Regions from separate parts of the Homo sapiens genome. Here region 1 is reported to be linked to region 2. The links are microRNA targets in miRTarBase. Many come from high-throughput screens and were not tested one by one. Region 2 holds a microRNA gene; the other region holds the end of a gene's coding sequence.

Region 1 (7,597 bases), not on the chromosome of region 2:
GTAGCTGTGCGGAGAGCGCAAAGGACTGTATTGTAAGGCCTGTGGGAGGGGAAGGGAGTGGTCTGGTCGGGGCGACCCTAACATTTTAGCCTTTTAATCGATGATAGGAAAGGGGACGCCATTTTTCGCCTGGCTACTTCAAGCTGAGAGGGGGCAGTGTTTAGGGGGAAGGCTGGAAGGTAGGGGTTGGTCCTGGTACTGGTTTTGAAATTGCCGGTATTCTTGCAGTAGCGTCATGTCTTTCATGGTTCCGTGGGTGAAAGCTCGGACGCGGTTCCGTAAAAACTGGGTACAGAGACGTAAGAGGCAGGGCCCAAAGACTGGAAGGAGAATGGTTAGGACGGGTCCTAGGAGTGGGAGTAACCAGGAGGCCTAAGAGCTGAGAGACCAAGGGGGCCAAGAGGGCCAGGCAGAGGAGGTGATTTTTCTTTTTTCTGTGAGTGCGGGGGAGGGCTTGGTCTTTTAGTTGTTTGACTGCACCCTGAACCAGGCCTGACTGATTGAAATAGAAGCAGCATTCCTCATCTAGGAAGATCCAGAGACTTCCTTTTTCTGCAGTAAGCAAATCAAGGCCTTTGCGGTTTTGTAGGGTAACTGCTGCTAGGGAGTCTAGTTGGTTTTGGAGGTGGGTAATAGTCTACAATTTTTTTTTTTTCAGGAAAGCCTGTAAGTCTGTAGAGAGTGCCTGGAAATATGATAATGAGGATCCTCTTAACTGGTGTGTAGGAATAGATGGAGAGCGGAGGGTCCCTTGGGAGGAAGTGACAGAGCATATATGACAGTTTGAGGTTATGTTTTTTAATAAGGTAAATAGGTCGGGGGAAGAGAAATATAGGCAAAGGAGAAGGTACGGGGGGTGCACACCAACGTGGAAAGATTGGTGAAGGGATGTTAGAATTTTTTTTTTTTTTTTGGTTTGTTTTTGGTGGAGGATGAGTTTTTGATTATCTAGTTGCTTTCGAAGGAGGTTCCTTGTTGTAGTAGTGAGCCCTTTTTTTAGTGGGGAATTCTGGGGTTGGATTGTAGGGGTAATGAGGAGGAGAGAGCCAGGGGGAGAAGAAAGGGAGAGCTTCTTTGCTGCCTTATCAGCTTTCGTGCTTCTTTTTGAGATTTTATTTGAACCTGTTTGATGTCCTGCTTTGGTTGGAAGGTGTGCAGCCTGAAGTAGCTGGTAAATAAGGGGAGCTGTTAGTGATGAGGGTTCCTTTGGCAGTAAGGAATCCTCTTTTGCCAGATGGCAGCGTGGGAATGAAGGATGTGATAGGCATCTTTGGAGTTTGTATAAATGTTGACTTGTTTGCCTTTGGAAAGGGTTAGGGCTCTGGTGAGAGCTGTAAGTTCTGCTTTTTTGGGGGAGGTTCCTGAAGGTAGGGGCCTGGCTTTAATTACTTGGTCAAGAGAAACAACTGCATATCCAGCAATTCTGGAGGAGCCAGCGGGCCTGGAAGAGGAGCCATCTATGAATAGCTGGTCATTGGGGTTGGCGAGACGCTTGGAGGAAATGTTTGGGAAGTGTGGCTGCTGGTGGTCTAGGATGTCAGTGCAAGAATGAGTAGGAAGGGAAGAGGATATGGGGAGTAAGGATGCTGGGTTGAGGGGAGCACTTTTGGCAAGGCAGAATTTGGGATTTTTGATAAAGAGGGCATGGAGTAATTGAATCTGGGAAGGAGGAGGAGAACTTAATGCTTGGGAGGAGAGGAGATGTAGATTATGAGGACTGTAGATGGTGGTATTTGGGCTGAATGTTAGCATCTTGCTTTCTAGAGCTAAAACTGCTGCTGCTGCTGTACTGTAAGACAGGTTGGCCACCCTTTGACTGTGTTGTTGAGTTGTTCAGAGAGGCAGGCTACAGGAGAAAAGGAAGGAGGATTTTATTTTTGTTGTCTTAAGACACCAAGGGCTATTCTTTGGTTTTTTGGCAGTATAGAGAGTGAAAGGTTGGGAGATATTAGGTAAGGACAGAGCCGGTGCAGTGATAAGAGTGGTTTGGAGTTTGCGGAAGTTGGGGAGTATGTTATGTGAGGAGTTTAGGAGTTTATTGAGGGGGCCTTTGGCTGCTTTATAAAGGGGGTGAGCTAGGGGGGCAAAGTTGGGAATCCATATTTTTAAAAAGCCTGTTAGCCCTAGGAAGGAAAGGATTTAGTTTTTTGAAGAAGGTGGAGATAGACTGTCTATTAAGGCTGCCCATGCCGGGGTCATGGCTCGAGACCTGGGGGAAGGTTGAACTCCTAAGTAGGTCCCGGTAGGGGTGGAAAGCTGTTCTTTAGAGGGGAGACCCTATAGCCTTTATTAGTAAGGAAATTCAGAAGGGTGGCAGTGTGAGTTTGGGAGTTTTTTAGGGAGGGGCTACAGAGAAGGAGGTCATCTAGATATTGAAGAAGGCGGCTGGGGGAAAGATCCAAGGAGGCAAGGTCTTGGGCTAGGGCTTGCCCGAAGAAAAGAAGGCTATCCTGGAAGCCCTGAGGGAGGACAGTCCACGTGAGTTGTTGTGACTGGAGGGTGTTGGGGTCAGTCTGGGTGAAAGCAAAGAGGTTTTGGGAATCGGGGTGTAGGGGAATGGTGAAGAAGGCATCTTTCAGGTCAATTGTGGTGTAGTGGGTGGTGCTGGAGGGGATGAGAGGGAGAAGTGTATAGGGGTTAGGGACTACAGGATGAATAGGGAGGACAGCCTGATTGATAACTCGGAGGTCCTGAACGAGTTGGTATGAGCTGTCAGATTTTTTAATAGGGAGGATGGGGTTGTTATATGGAGTGTTGGTCTAAGACGACTGTGTGAGCAGAGCTTATGATGGGTTGTAAGTCCTTTGGTGTGTTAGGGAAGTGGGGTATTGGGGAATGTTGGGAAATTTAGAGGGGTCTTTTAACTGGATTTTGATGAGGTCCTGGTGAGCAGCTATGGAAGGGGTGATGGTGTCCCACACTACTGGGTTAATGAGGGAGGCGGGTAGCGGGTGCTGGGGAGTGGGGTTCAGGGGCCAGACTAGCAGAGAGGAGCAGGAGGGACTCTGGTTGAGGGGGACAGGAAAACATGATAGAAGCTTTGAATTTGGTTAAAATGTCTTGGCCTAGCATTGGGGTGGGGCAATGAGGCATGATAAGGAAGGAGTGTGAAAAAGCAGTATTAAACAGGGAACAAATAAATAATTCAGTAGCACGTGGACACCAGACCAGTCCATCAACCCCTACAACAGAGACCTGGGAAGGGCAAGTGGGTCCTAAAGATTCAGGTAAAACCAAGTAGGTGGCCCCACTATCAATTAAGAAAGAGACTGGCTTACCTGCCATTAGCAGAGTTACCCTGGGTTCCGATGCAGTGACGGCAGATGGGGCCGGGGGCCCTGGGCTCTGTCAATCTTCAGTGGCCAGGACAAGGAGCTGTGGGAGTGGGAGTGACTCTTCACTCTTCGTTTTGCCAGGGCCTTGAGGAACCGGCCTGTTAGTCTGCTTGTTAAGAGGACAATCAGACTTCCAGTGACCAGTTTGTTGGCAGGCTGGGCAAGGAGTTTTTGGCAATCATGGGTTAGGGCATGCTCGGGCCCAGTGACCTTCTTTGCAGCACTTAAAACAGGGCCCAGGAGGGTCACTGCTATGGGGTCTATTGTGCCCCTGGGCAGCCCGAGTAGGCTGACAAATAGCTGCTGCTAGGAGCTGGTACTTGGCACAATCTCCTTGGGCTTTATCTAATTTATTTTGCTCATCTCTGTTGCTGAAGACCTTAAAGGCCAGGTTAAGGAGGTCTCGTTGAGGGGTTTGAGGGCTGTCTTCTACCTTTTTGAGCTTGCGCCATAAGTCAGAAGCAGACCTTCCTGGGAGGTGGGGTTAACATGGGTGTATTTTTGGAGGGCCTCTGTAAGGTGGGAAAGAAATTTGGTGGGATTTTTGTCGGCCCTTTGGGAGACTTTTTTGAGCTTTTCAAAGTTACAGCCTTATGGGCAGCTTTATTAAGACCTGAGATAAGGCAAGTGATCATGTGGTTATGAGATGCCCGGCTGGGGTCTGTGGGTTGGTACTCCCGGGAGGGTTTTTCCCAGGAAACTGCAGCAGCCCCTATGGGCTTAGTACGGTCTTGTGGATGAAGATCATTGGCATGCCTGAGCTGCAAGCCACTCTTTTCTTTTCTTTTTTTTTTTTTCTGGGAGGAGAGTATAAGAGAGGATAATATAGAGATCATGCCAAGTGAGTCTGTAAGATTGGGTGAGGTATTTGAGCTTTTTGATATAAGTGTCAGGATTGGAGGAAAAGGACCTGAGATGTTTCTTAATTTGCGAAAGGTTAAGAGAGGGAGAAGGGAATGTGGACGCGAACGACTCCTTTAGCCCCAGCCACCTCTCAGAGGGGAAGTAAGGGGGCCGAGTGTTGGGCATGCTGAGTCTGAGAGCGGGTATGAGGTGGAGATGGGGAAGAATCAGAATCAGAAGCTGGGTGGTTGGAGAGAGGAAGAGAACGAAGGCAGGAGCGGGATTGTATGGTGGAGGATTGTGATGATTTGGGGGAGGATTACGGTGCTGTTGGGGAAAAGTTGGCAGGATCAAAGAAGGAAGAATCATTGGGAGGAGCGGTGACGGGGGTGGGGGTCTGAGGATGGGTCAGGTTTGGAGCAGGCGAGGATTTGGAAAGTAGAGCAGGACTGACAGAGGGAGGGATGGCTATGGAGGGCAAACGAAAGCCTGAACATAAGGAATCTCTGACCACTTTCCATTGCGATGGCAGAAGTTGTCTAGGTACCTGAGAATGTTGAAATTTAAAGTGCCGTTTTCAGGCCATTGGGAGCCATTGTTTAGTTTATATTGTGGCCAGGCGGTGTTACAATAAAAGATGAGGTTTTTTTTTGGCTGAATTTCGGAATGGAGGCTAAGGGCATTAAGGTTATGATGGAGGAGGCACCCGAAGCGGGGATGTCTTTGAGGGAGGGGATTGGAAGGCTCCCATAGTGGAATGAGAAAGGGAGGGGTAGAGATGGGAGACTTGGCCGGAGACTAGAATGGTGGGAGAACGCGTCCCTTGTCCCACAGTTCAAGTCGGAGAAGTGCGATAATCCCCAGTTCAGGCATCCTTGATAGGAGATATCGAGGGCCTCCTGGAGGCCAGGAGGAGGAAACCCTTGGCCCAGTGCTGGGTCTTTTAGGAAGGAAAGAGCAGACAAGGGTTCCAGACACAAGGCGAAAGTCTCCTTTACTCAACCCTGAGGAGGCCCTGGTGTTGGATGTGTTCGCCAGCAATGGAAAGTATGTATGAGATCCTTGGGTCTCTAGCAGGTTCTGGAAGGGGGAGTTCAGCCAGGGGAAGGAGGGAGAGAAAGAGAAAGGGAGAAAGGGAGGCCGAACTCTATCACCTTTCCGGGTTTCGGCACCAGAAATGTAAGGTCAGCCAAGAGAAAGGATGAAGAGACCCAAAGTCAGGCAAGCAAGCTTTATTGAGCTGCTTGGCTGCTCCACCACAGTTAGAGGAGGCAGCCCTGCTTACAGACTATAGCAGGTTTTTATAGGGCCAGAACTAGGTCGGGGTGCGGGAGCTGAGTTGGGGGTGCAGGAGAACTGGGTTGGGGTGGGGGAGCTTAGTCGAGGGTGCAGGTGTCTTGTCTGCATCCTGGAGATGTTTTTTGCCAGCTTTGTTATGCGAGGTGAACAGACATGTTAACCGCATCCTGTAACTGTCTGCACAGTTACTGGAGGGATCAGTGAAGGGGGGTTTGTTTTTTGCCCTGGGGTAGCTGTGCAGAGAGCACAAGGGACCGTATTGTAAGTCCTGTGGGAGGGGAAGGGAACGGTCTGATCAGGGTGACCCTAACAGAAGAGTATTATTCTAAACACCTATCTCATAAATCACTTACAAGTATATAAAACAACCACAAAGAGCCTCTCTACCAAGATTTTACTCACGCATCTTACATTTCAGTGTCTTTCACCTTTCACGGACAAGTATATCAGTGATGCACACCTAAGAGAAAAGAATTTCTCATATCTCTGACGCAGCAACAACTGACCATGTGTTTTCACATCAGCACTAGAAATGAAGACACAGCATCTACTGATTTGAGAATAGAATGACATCAATATTCGCTTTTCAAAAATTTAACATTTTTTCAATGCAAAAAAGTATATTTTGAATGTAATTATAACTCTACAAAAACTCAGTCTCATCCTCCTTTTAAACTTAAATATAAATGATCTATTTTAAGTCTAGATGTCTCTGTAGACTCAACACAGGGATTCAGTGTCATTTCTGAACGTGTCCTTGCTTATTTTTCCCATTTAGTGTATTTGCAAAATATCTTTTAGTATGAACTCTAGTGTTTTCTAAGCTATCATTTTTGAACAAATGTTATTCCACATTTATGAGATTTGTTGGGTTTCTCTACAAATTTTCTGAAAGTTTAAGCAACTGATGCAAGTCTTCCATCTAGTATAATTGTAACATTTTTTTCAGAAGAAATACTCTTGTGTGCTCTGGAGACTTATATTTCATGAAAGGTCTTTCAATAGTAATTACATTTATGATAACTTTATTAAGTCTGAACTCTGATGTAAAGTGGGATGCGAGCAGATACTAACGGCTTTGCCTATTTTTATATTTGTTTATTTTTTTCTCAAGTATGAATGCTTTCATGTACAGTCAGGTGTGAGAACTGGGTGAAGGCTTTGCCACACTTTTCACACTTGTAGGGTTTCTCTCCAGTATGAATTCTCTTATGTACAATAAGGTTTGAGGACTGGGTAAAGTTTTTTCCACATTCGTCACATTTGTAGGGTTTCTCTCCAGTATGGGTTTTCTTATGTTTGGTAATGTCTGAGAACCACATGAAGACTCTGCCACATTCTTCACACTTGTAGGGTTTCTCTCCAGTATGAATTCTCTTATGTACAATAAGGTTGGAGGACTGGGTAAAGTTTTTTCCACATTCGTCACATTTGTAGGGCTTCTCTCCAGTATGGGTTTTCTTATGCTTAGTGAGGTCTGATAACTGCTTAAAGATGTTGCCACATTCTTCACACGTGTAGGGTTTTTCTTCAGAATGAGTTCTCTTATGGTTAGAAAGGCTTGAGCAAGTTCTGAAGACCTTCCCACATTCTTCACATTGGTAGGGTTTCTCTCCGGTGTGAATCCTCCTGTGTTCACTGAGGTGTGAGGACTGTGTATAGGCTTTCCCACATTCGTCACATTTGTATGGTTTCTCACCAGTGTGAATTCTCTTATGTTTAGTAAGGTCTGAGAACCACTTGAAGATGCTGTCACATTCCTCACATTTGAAAGGTTTCCCTCCAATCTCATTTCTCTGGTGTTTGGAAGGATTTGGGCTGTGGTTAAAACCTTTGTACCATGTTTCACATTTGGAGAGCTTCTCTCCAGCAAGAATCATCTGTTGATTAGAAAGGCTTGAGCAAGAGATAAAGACACTGCTGCACTCTTCATATTTGCAGGGTTTTTCCTCAGTACCATGCTCATGTTCAGTAAGGTGGGAGCACTGGTTAAATACTTTGCCAAATTCTTCACATCTGTAATGTTCCCCTCCGGCATAAATTCTATTTTTAGTAAGGACTGAGCAAGTTTTAATGACGTTGTTACATTCTTGACACTTGTAAGGTTTCTCTCCAGTGTC
Region 2 (8,247 bases):
ACAAGCACTGTTCAGCAGTTTTCATGGCTCCCTCCTGACACAATGCACCTGGCACCTCCACCTGCTACCCTCCATCAGGGCTGTTTCTCAAATTAGACAGGCGGCTTATCAAGCAGAAGCTTCCAGAGAGTGCCTTACCCACTTAATGCCCTCACATGGGCATTTAGTCACCGGTACTAGGTGAAAGTGGGGAAGAAACTCCTACAGAAAAGAGGAATCACCCAACCTAGCAACATTCCAGAATGTTCCAACATAGATATGGAGGCTCCGAGGCAGAGTGATCTGGTAAATTGAACACGACCTCAGTCTTAGATCCCAGATGTAAGGATAAGTCTCAACCAGTCTCCCCAGCCTTACTGTTTCTGATTAAAACAATTTCAACACTGCTGGGCATGGTGGCTCACACCTGTAATCCCAGCACTTTGGGAGGCCAAGTTGGGGGTCGGGGGGTGGATCATCTGAGGCTGGGAGTTCGAGACCAGCCTGACCAACATGGGGAAACCCCATCTCTACTAAAAATACAAAATTAGCTGGGCGTGGTGGGCGTGGTGCGCATGCCTGTAATCCCAGCTACTCAGGAAGGCTGAGGCAGGCAGGAGAATCGCTTGAACCTGGGAGGCCGAGGTTGTGGTGAGCCGAGATCGTGCCACTGCACTCTAGCCTGGGCAACAACAGCGAAATTCGGTCTCAAAAAAAAAAAAAAAACTTTCAACACCAATGATCCCAGGGTGGGCCAGGGGCAGAGGCAGGGGCAGGGGCAGGCTGGGGAGCACTGGTCCATTCCCGGATGAGGGAGTCTTACTTTCATGGCAGTATGTTCCCGTGAAGCCTTTGTTACAGTCACAGGTGAATTTGCCTCCCGACTGACTCTTGCACTTCCCGTGAGGACCACAGACGTTGGAGGAAATATACCGCACCCCTTCAGGTGTGTCGTTGGAAGCCATGGCCACTGTGCAGCTGTCAATCACTAGAAGATAGGCTTGGGATCAGATCACAGCCATGCACCCACAGATGCGGCATTCCTAAGCCAAGGGCCTGGGCCAAGCCCACTTTCCTGGAGACAGGGACCCTCTGGCTAATGAGACACACCCCAGGGAAGCCAAGATACTGGCAACGTGCCACATCACATTATGACAGGCAAAGTTGAGACTCCAGGCAAAGAGTTTTAAAGCATTTTCTCCCTCCACACAACCAGGAAAACCCACATGCTTGTGGATCCCCTTCATCCTACCTTTGACATCTACCCAATTTGGTAAACACTTGCTAAGGCAAAAGGACCTGCTTTATTTACTTCCTTTTTGATCTTAAGCAAGGCTCAAGGACAATCTTATAGAAGCTTTAAATGTTGTGCTGCCTAATACAGCAGCCACCGGCCACATGTGGCTATTTACATTTAAATGAACTAAAATGAAATAAAATCAGTTTCTAGTTACACTAGTCACAGTCCACATGGCCTGGGGCTCCCATACCTGACCGTGCAGATACAGAACATCCCCCTCTGTCTGCCGTTGCAGGAAGTTCTGTTGACAGTGTTGTTCTCAGGCATTTGCCTCAGCGTTGCACATCAGCCCACCCCAGAACAGGAATGCTAAATGGATTTCACATTCTCTCCCCTGGGCTACTTGTAGACACGGCTCTCCCACTGGCAGGCCGGAATAGATTGTTTCCACGTGTTGCGGCCCGCTACACAGGCAGGATCATTTCACTATAGAGGTCCTCCTCACCAATACATTACTTCTCAAGTGTAACAAGGGGCAGTGGTAGTAAGTGGGGACAAAAGGAGCAAGTCTGGAGACAGCCAGGTCCCGGGAGAAGGGAGGTACCTTCACAGGGGGTCGTGCGGCAGTGGTCTTTCAGGTGTGAGCAGTTCTTGCCCTCATAGTCCTCGGGGCACTTGCAGAAATAGTCACTGGCACGGTTGTAGCACTGGGCACCGTTCTGGCAGGGATTAGGCTCACAATAATCGATGTCCAGCTGCAAATATCAGGAACAGCGAAAAGGGGGAGGGATCAGAGTAAAACAAAGGTGTCACGATAACTTCTCTGGGGCAGCAGGCACTGGAATCTGACAGTTCCTTCGGTTTCTATTAGGAGACACCCTGTAAGATACATCTCTATGCTGTAGGGACTGCCAATGTCCAGTATTTGAAACAACGGGGCAGAGTGGGAGAGGGAGCACAAGAGGGGGTGGAGGGAACCAAAAAGAACACAAAGACGAAGACACTAAGAAGAAAATAATTCGTCAGTATCTCCTTCCACCAGCATTTGTCTAGCAGAGACTCTCTCATCAATAGGATGTTAATAGATGTTAGGAAATTCCAGACACAAGAGCTGAGGGAAAAGTAAAGGGAAGCGGAGGAGGCAGCGGCTCTGCTCTAAAAACTTGGCCATCTGAGGTTTTGCCACCACTCACCTGACAGAGGTTTCCAGAGAAACCAGTGGGACACAGACACTGGAATCTGTTGATTTCATTCTGACAGTGACCCCCATTCAAACAGGGGTTGCTGGCACATTCATCGATGTCTCTCTCACAGTGATCGCCTGCATAGCCAGGTGGACAGATACAGCGATAACCATTAACCAAATCCTAGAAGAGGAGAAGGGGAGAGAGAGACACATGCTTTTTTTCTATGTATTCCACAAACACAGGGCTTCAGCGGTTTAGCATGACTGTTGCGGTTTAGCTGGTTCACTGAAATAGCCAAATGCTAAACCTCTGAAAGTGGTTAGAGGAATTTCTATGTGCATGCCTTCAAAATGACTCCCACGAGGCTGGGGTAACATAAGCCCTAGCGAAACTTCCAAGAGACTCTTTTTTCACCCAAATTTTTAAATCTCACAGGGACAGAGCTCTCCTAGTGTCGCACAAATCTAAAGATTTGTTGTCAATTGTCAAAGTTTTGATTTAAGCAAAGATTTACATACCCGACAGGAGGCGTCATTCTGACACTGGCCAAGGCAGTCATTAATATCTAAAAAATAAATAAGTCATCATTTTAAAGAGGTAATTTACAGTGAAATTGGGCTTAATTGAAAAGCCTTCTCAGCTCAGGATAGATAAGTTTCAAATCAGATTTCCTGTGTGCTTTCCGTGAGATAAGGTTATTACGCTGGGTGGGGACCCTCCCTAATTCTTCCAGAATGAGGGAGTGAAACTTCACATCATTGTTTCAGCCACATTATCAGAATATGGCTGGTTTTCGCAGCTAATGAGCCTGATAAAGTGTATGTTTTCACTGCTGCCCTGACCACTCCCTCTCAAAAAACCATTCCCACTCTAAGGTTTTCCTTCTACTGCTCAAGTCCTAGGACTGGAGCCCCAGTACGGACCAGCAAGTCGGCTACCCAAGTTTCATGAAAATCAAAATGGAAACAAAGTCACTCACTTATGTCACAATTCTGACCCATCCAGCCGGGAAGACAGTCGCAGTAGTAGCTGGCAATGAGATTCTTACAGGATTTGGCGTTTACACAAGGTTTGGCCTCACATTCATTTGCATCTGAAAGGAGATGGGGATGAGCATGAGAAATGAAGTTCAACCCCCATCTCCCCCACCTTGGAAAAAAAAAGAACAGGCCAGAGTTTGTCTGAGACATGAGACATTTTAATAAGCTAGCTAAATAAAAGATACTAGAGGTTCCCTCTATTTTAAGCATCTGATCCCTCTCCCTAGCTATTATCCAATAAGAACCCTAATTGATAACTTTCCAGCTGCTAGTTAACCAGCCCCCAACAAAACAGCAGAAAGCCACCAGGCATTTCTGTGCAAAACCCAGGCAGCCTAGTTGCTGGGATTTAAATGTGGCAAAAAGAATGCAGACAGCTCATTCCTCATGAGATCATCCCCTTTTGGAACCCAGCTGAACACTCCTCGGACAGACGATTGACATGGTTCAAGGAATCCCACGACTTTCCCACAGGGCCTAAAAGAGCTAGTCCATTTGCATTCAAGTTATTTCTCCCAGGCCTGCTAGACTCTTGATAATAAATTACTTCTTAGCATGATGGAGTGTGAACTCACACTGCCGGCCACACGCTCGTCTTCTGTAATGGCTTTGACAATCAAAGCCAACCTTGGTATAAAAATTACAGTCACAGGGATGTTCTTACCTAACTGGCACGTTTTCCCAGTCCACTGTGGGGGGCACACACACTTAAATCCGTTAACCAGGTCCTGGCAGGTGCCCCCGTGGGAACAGTTATTAGGAGAACAGTCATCAATGTCTGGTCAACAAGAAAAGGAGGGGGTTGACAATTTAATTCAATCCATCTGACAATTAGATCCTTTAACATCACCTCTTACATGAGGGGCTGTCATTGAAGAGCCAGACACCTGCTACAAGGAAAGCTACAGCAGGACAAGTGGGACGGTGACGATAAGGCCGAAGCCTTGATTTTAGCTTTAAATCCCCCACTGCCCCAGTTCATGTAATCCCCAACCTAAGCAGTGGGGGAGAAAGACAGCTGGATACTGACGGAGCATCCGCCCAGGAGGAACACAGGACATCTCTATCTGCCTAATCTTTATTTTTAAAGAAAAGTTTCATCATGGCTCAGAAGTAGCTAAGAAGTCAGGAAAAATAGTTCTTTACAGGTGGAAAACCTTATTCCTCTCATTTGCTTACAGAGTTTGCCCAAAATAGCACACCTAGAGGCTGCATTCTCCACTTCTGCTCTGACCAGAGACAACTCCTAACAATTTATGAAGTATTCACTTTTGTGTCTTTATGACAACCTCGGAGATGGGAATTGCTACTGTGCCATTTAAAGAGGGCCCGGGGAGCTTCTGTGGCCTGCTGGAGTTCCGCAAGTGACAGGTGGGGGCCTAGGACCAGCACAGGCAATCTGACCCCAGAAATCCACATCCATAACCACACCTGGGGTGCTGATGACAGCGGTTCTCAGACCTGGCTGCACTGCAGAATTCCAGAAGTTTATCAAAGACCATGGACTCCCCGATTCTGGAGGGAATCTGGGGGACCCAGAGATTTACACTGTAAAGCAGCCCAGGTGATTCTGATATACAGCCCTGTCTCACAGCCAAAGGAACTCTGCAGGCCAGGTTCTTCTCTGGGGCCCCCTGGCCCTATGACAGAATCCAGTAGTAAGTGACAACCTCCCCTGAAGGCAGCCTCTCCATGGCTGCAAGAAGAATAACCACAATTGGAAGGTGGCCAGCTCCAGGAAGCAGATGCAAAGGAACAAGCGATTCCACGAGGACGTTCCTTCCAAGAACAGATACATGCGCTACCTTAGTGGGACAGGATGGGGGTGCTGGGAGACTTCCAAACACACAAGCCACCAGACTGCTTACCAGACTTAGGCCTGCACCCGCCCCTCTCTCACCGAGACATTCACACTGGACAAGCCTAGGTACCTCTCCCCAGCGTGGTATCTTGGCACAAGGATCCTTAGAATGGACACAGGCTGAAAATTGGACTTACTTGTAGAGCATGTGGGGCCGGTCCAGCCTGGGGAACACTCACACTCAAAGCCCAGGGAGGTCTCCTTACAGCTGCCTCTGTTGTGACAGGGATCAGAGAGGCAGGCGTGCTCAGCTGCAAAAACCAGGATGGCAGTCAGAGAGGGATGCCTGCACACCGTTACCTCCCCACACCCCCCTCCAACCGAATCCCACACCACAGCCACTAGTGCAAGCATATTTCAAAAACCAAAAGCAAGCGTGTGATAGAACCCTGCTGTGTCTAGGAAAGAAAGGAAGTCATCTTTCTCGCTGAGCTGTCTCTAACCACATTCCAAGACATCTCAGAGCTGGGGTCATTTCATCTCCCGCTGCCTCCTATACGAATCAGCATCACCCAAAAAACTTTAGAGACTTGAAAGTTACAAAGGCTTATAGAATGGTTGGGATAAGGCCTATCTTTGGAAGCTATTTTCACTTTTTTTTCCTTAAACAAGTCCTTAAGTATATTTTTTAAAAGCTGAGTACAGAAAAATTAGACAAAGGGCTCTCATTCATCTTGGACCACTTACCAATTTCACAGTTGGGTCCTGAATACCCCTCAGGGCAGGAACACTGATATTTGTCAGGGCCTGTGTTGCTACAAGTTCCCCCGTTGAGACACGGCTGATGAGTCCCACAGTAATTGAGATCTGCCAAAAAGATCCTGGAGTCACTAAGAGACGCCTGTGAAGATGGCGAACCCACCATGTTTCTAGCCCCAGTCGTCTTTTAAAAAGAAAAACCAGAAAACCCACACAGCATTCAAGGAGAATTCAGAATAAAAGCCCCTGCCAATAAAATTAGAAACCAAATTAGTGCCATCCCACCCCCAGATCCCACCCTGGGTCTCATCCCTAAGGGCCATACCTTTGTCACAGAGCTGGCCGCCCCAGTTGGTCTCACAGAGGCACTGCCAGGGCTCATTACAGATGCCGTGGACGCATCCCGGGTGTGGGATGCACTTATCACAGTACAGGCCTTGCCAGCCGTACTGGCACCTGGAGACACACAGCACACCTCCAGGTTAGCCTTTTGAACGTTAAGAGACACCTGTACAATTCAAATGGAAGACTGCAAAGTCCAGGCTTTTTCTGTTTTGTTTCTGGGGACAGGAAGGTAGACTCCCAAGGCTCATCAGGGGCTCCGTATAAACAAACATTTTCACAGTTGAGCTGAGGTCCCCTCCCAGCCGACTCCTGACAAAAGGAGGGCTGTTTGGGAAGAGGCCAGCATGGGGATGCCCTTCACAAAGCCACTCTCTTCTCAGGCTCACACGAGTGAGCCAAAGGTGAAGGCATGGAATAAATCAACCCGTGCACCTAGTTGCGACAGACTATAGAGGAAAGGACTCTCTCGGTGACAAGAGAGCTATGCCAAAGTCTCTGCAGACGCTGCACTTGCCACTCTGCTCTTTGTCTGCACAGAAAGTCATGACCCCAGTGCACAGAAATGCAACAAGCCACCAAGTGCAGCAGGAAACTGCCTCACGATGACGCTTTATTTAAAAAAACAAGGAGAGAAAGGGGCACCCTCCCTTGGCCAAAGCCAGAGTAGGCTCTCTAAACCCACTTCTATAGGGAAGGAGAAGGAAATGACAACACTTGGAACCAACTCCATAATTTGTGTCCCATTACTGTGTGCTAATTTATAGTGATTTCTTGCTTTGCCAAGAAAAGAAAAAAAAAAGAAAGCAGTCTGCTTAATTTATCTAGTATTGGCGGAGTTGAGGTTCTTTTATATAAGCACCTTGATTAATCATACTCTTTTGGGGCCAAATAGTGCCTCTGATCCCCAAGCAAAAACAAAAACAAATACAACAACTTTCATCTGGGGTGGGAGAGGGGGCAGCGTCTCAAACCACTCTCCCTTGAATTTTCAAGCCCTCTGAAACTTTAATTGCCTTCTCAAGAGCCAAGCTTTAACAAGGGTGGGGGAAGGCAGGGAGAAACATCAACTAGCCTCCCGGTGGAGCGTGGAGGGTGGAGGGTGGAGGGTGGGGTGCGGGTGGGATGGGCAACATGTTTCCAGAACGGGACCTGGGAAAAGCCACGATCAGCGCCAACCCCCTAAGCTGCTCAGCTGTAACTCTGGAAAACAACCCCCGCCCCCTCTAGCTCCCCAGAAGGAAAGGCTTTCGGTTTCCCAAGAGCGGGAGGCAGGCTAGCAAATCCTTGTCATGGGAAAATTATAGGGATCTAGCTAATAGCTAATCACCCACGGCTGAGAGTCAACTTAACCCCTGAGAATACTGACTAACCACTTCCTAACTTCTGAAACCAAGCTATGCACACCCACATGCAAAGAAATCACTAGAATGTGTGGTTTAAAGTTAGACACTGGATTCTGGTTTATGTAAAATGGAATGTCAACGTGACAAGTGACTAAAGGAGTAAGATAAGAACAAAATTACAATCTAAATAATTTCTCAAAAGCGGACACCCACGTTAGTGGGAGGTAAGGGTGTAGCCATTCTGTCAAGGCTGATATTCTTAGCCTGAAAGATAGTAAGAGGGAACTGATTACGAAATGGCAATATTCTCACCGTCTTCCCTTATTCTCTTCCAAATTCAGGATCACTAGCCCTCTTCAAGTTGCCTCATAAAGGCAAGGAGAGGCAGCTGAGGACCCAACCTCACCTAATTAAAGAGACCTCAATCCCCAAGCATAAAAAAGCAACCACAAGAGGCCATGGATGACTTCAAAAGAAAACAAATAAAAATACTGACCCTAAAAGAGGCACCAACCAAGTTATCCCAGTTTAATAATATATGATTAAGATTCTC

Evidence for each region. Region 2 holds the annotated microRNA hsa-miR-6870-3p (GCUCAUCCCCAUCUCCUUUCAG, at 3,500-3,521, opposite strand). A microRNA usually pairs through its seed, bases 2 to 8, with sites in the 3' UTR of a target mRNA and lowers its output. Matches are read on the target gene's strand: a 7mer-m8 pairs with bases 2 to 8, a 7mer-A1 pairs with bases 2 to 7 and ends in A, and an 8mer does both.
Region 1: the mRNA of ZNF195 is a reported target of hsa-miR-6870-3p. Seed matches in the 3' UTR shown: 8mer at 6,135-6,142.

What each region holds. Positions count from the first base shown.
Region 1 is chr11:3,352,532-3,360,128 of GRCh38, forward strand. ZNF195 (zinc finger protein 195) reads right to left here. Exons shown (of 6, transcript NM_001130520.3): 6 at 5,396-7,597. The coding sequence ends at 6,587. Among named protein-coding and RNA genes, the nearest start is that of ZNF195, 23 kb to the right of the region's middle.
Region 2 is chr20:10,646,137-10,654,383 of GRCh38, forward strand. MIR6870 (microRNA 6870) reads right to left here and starts at 3,559; the gene lies at 3,500-3,559. JAG1 (jagged canonical Notch ligand 1) reads right to left here. Exons shown (of 26, transcript NM_000214.3): 6 at 6,332-6,462; 7 at 5,995-6,114; 8 at 5,445-5,558; 9 at 4,111-4,224; 10 at 3,386-3,499; 11 at 2,925-2,971; 12 at 2,413-2,586; 13 at 1,824-1,974; 14 at 803-967. RefSeq lists silencers at 1,531-1,580, 5,045-5,339.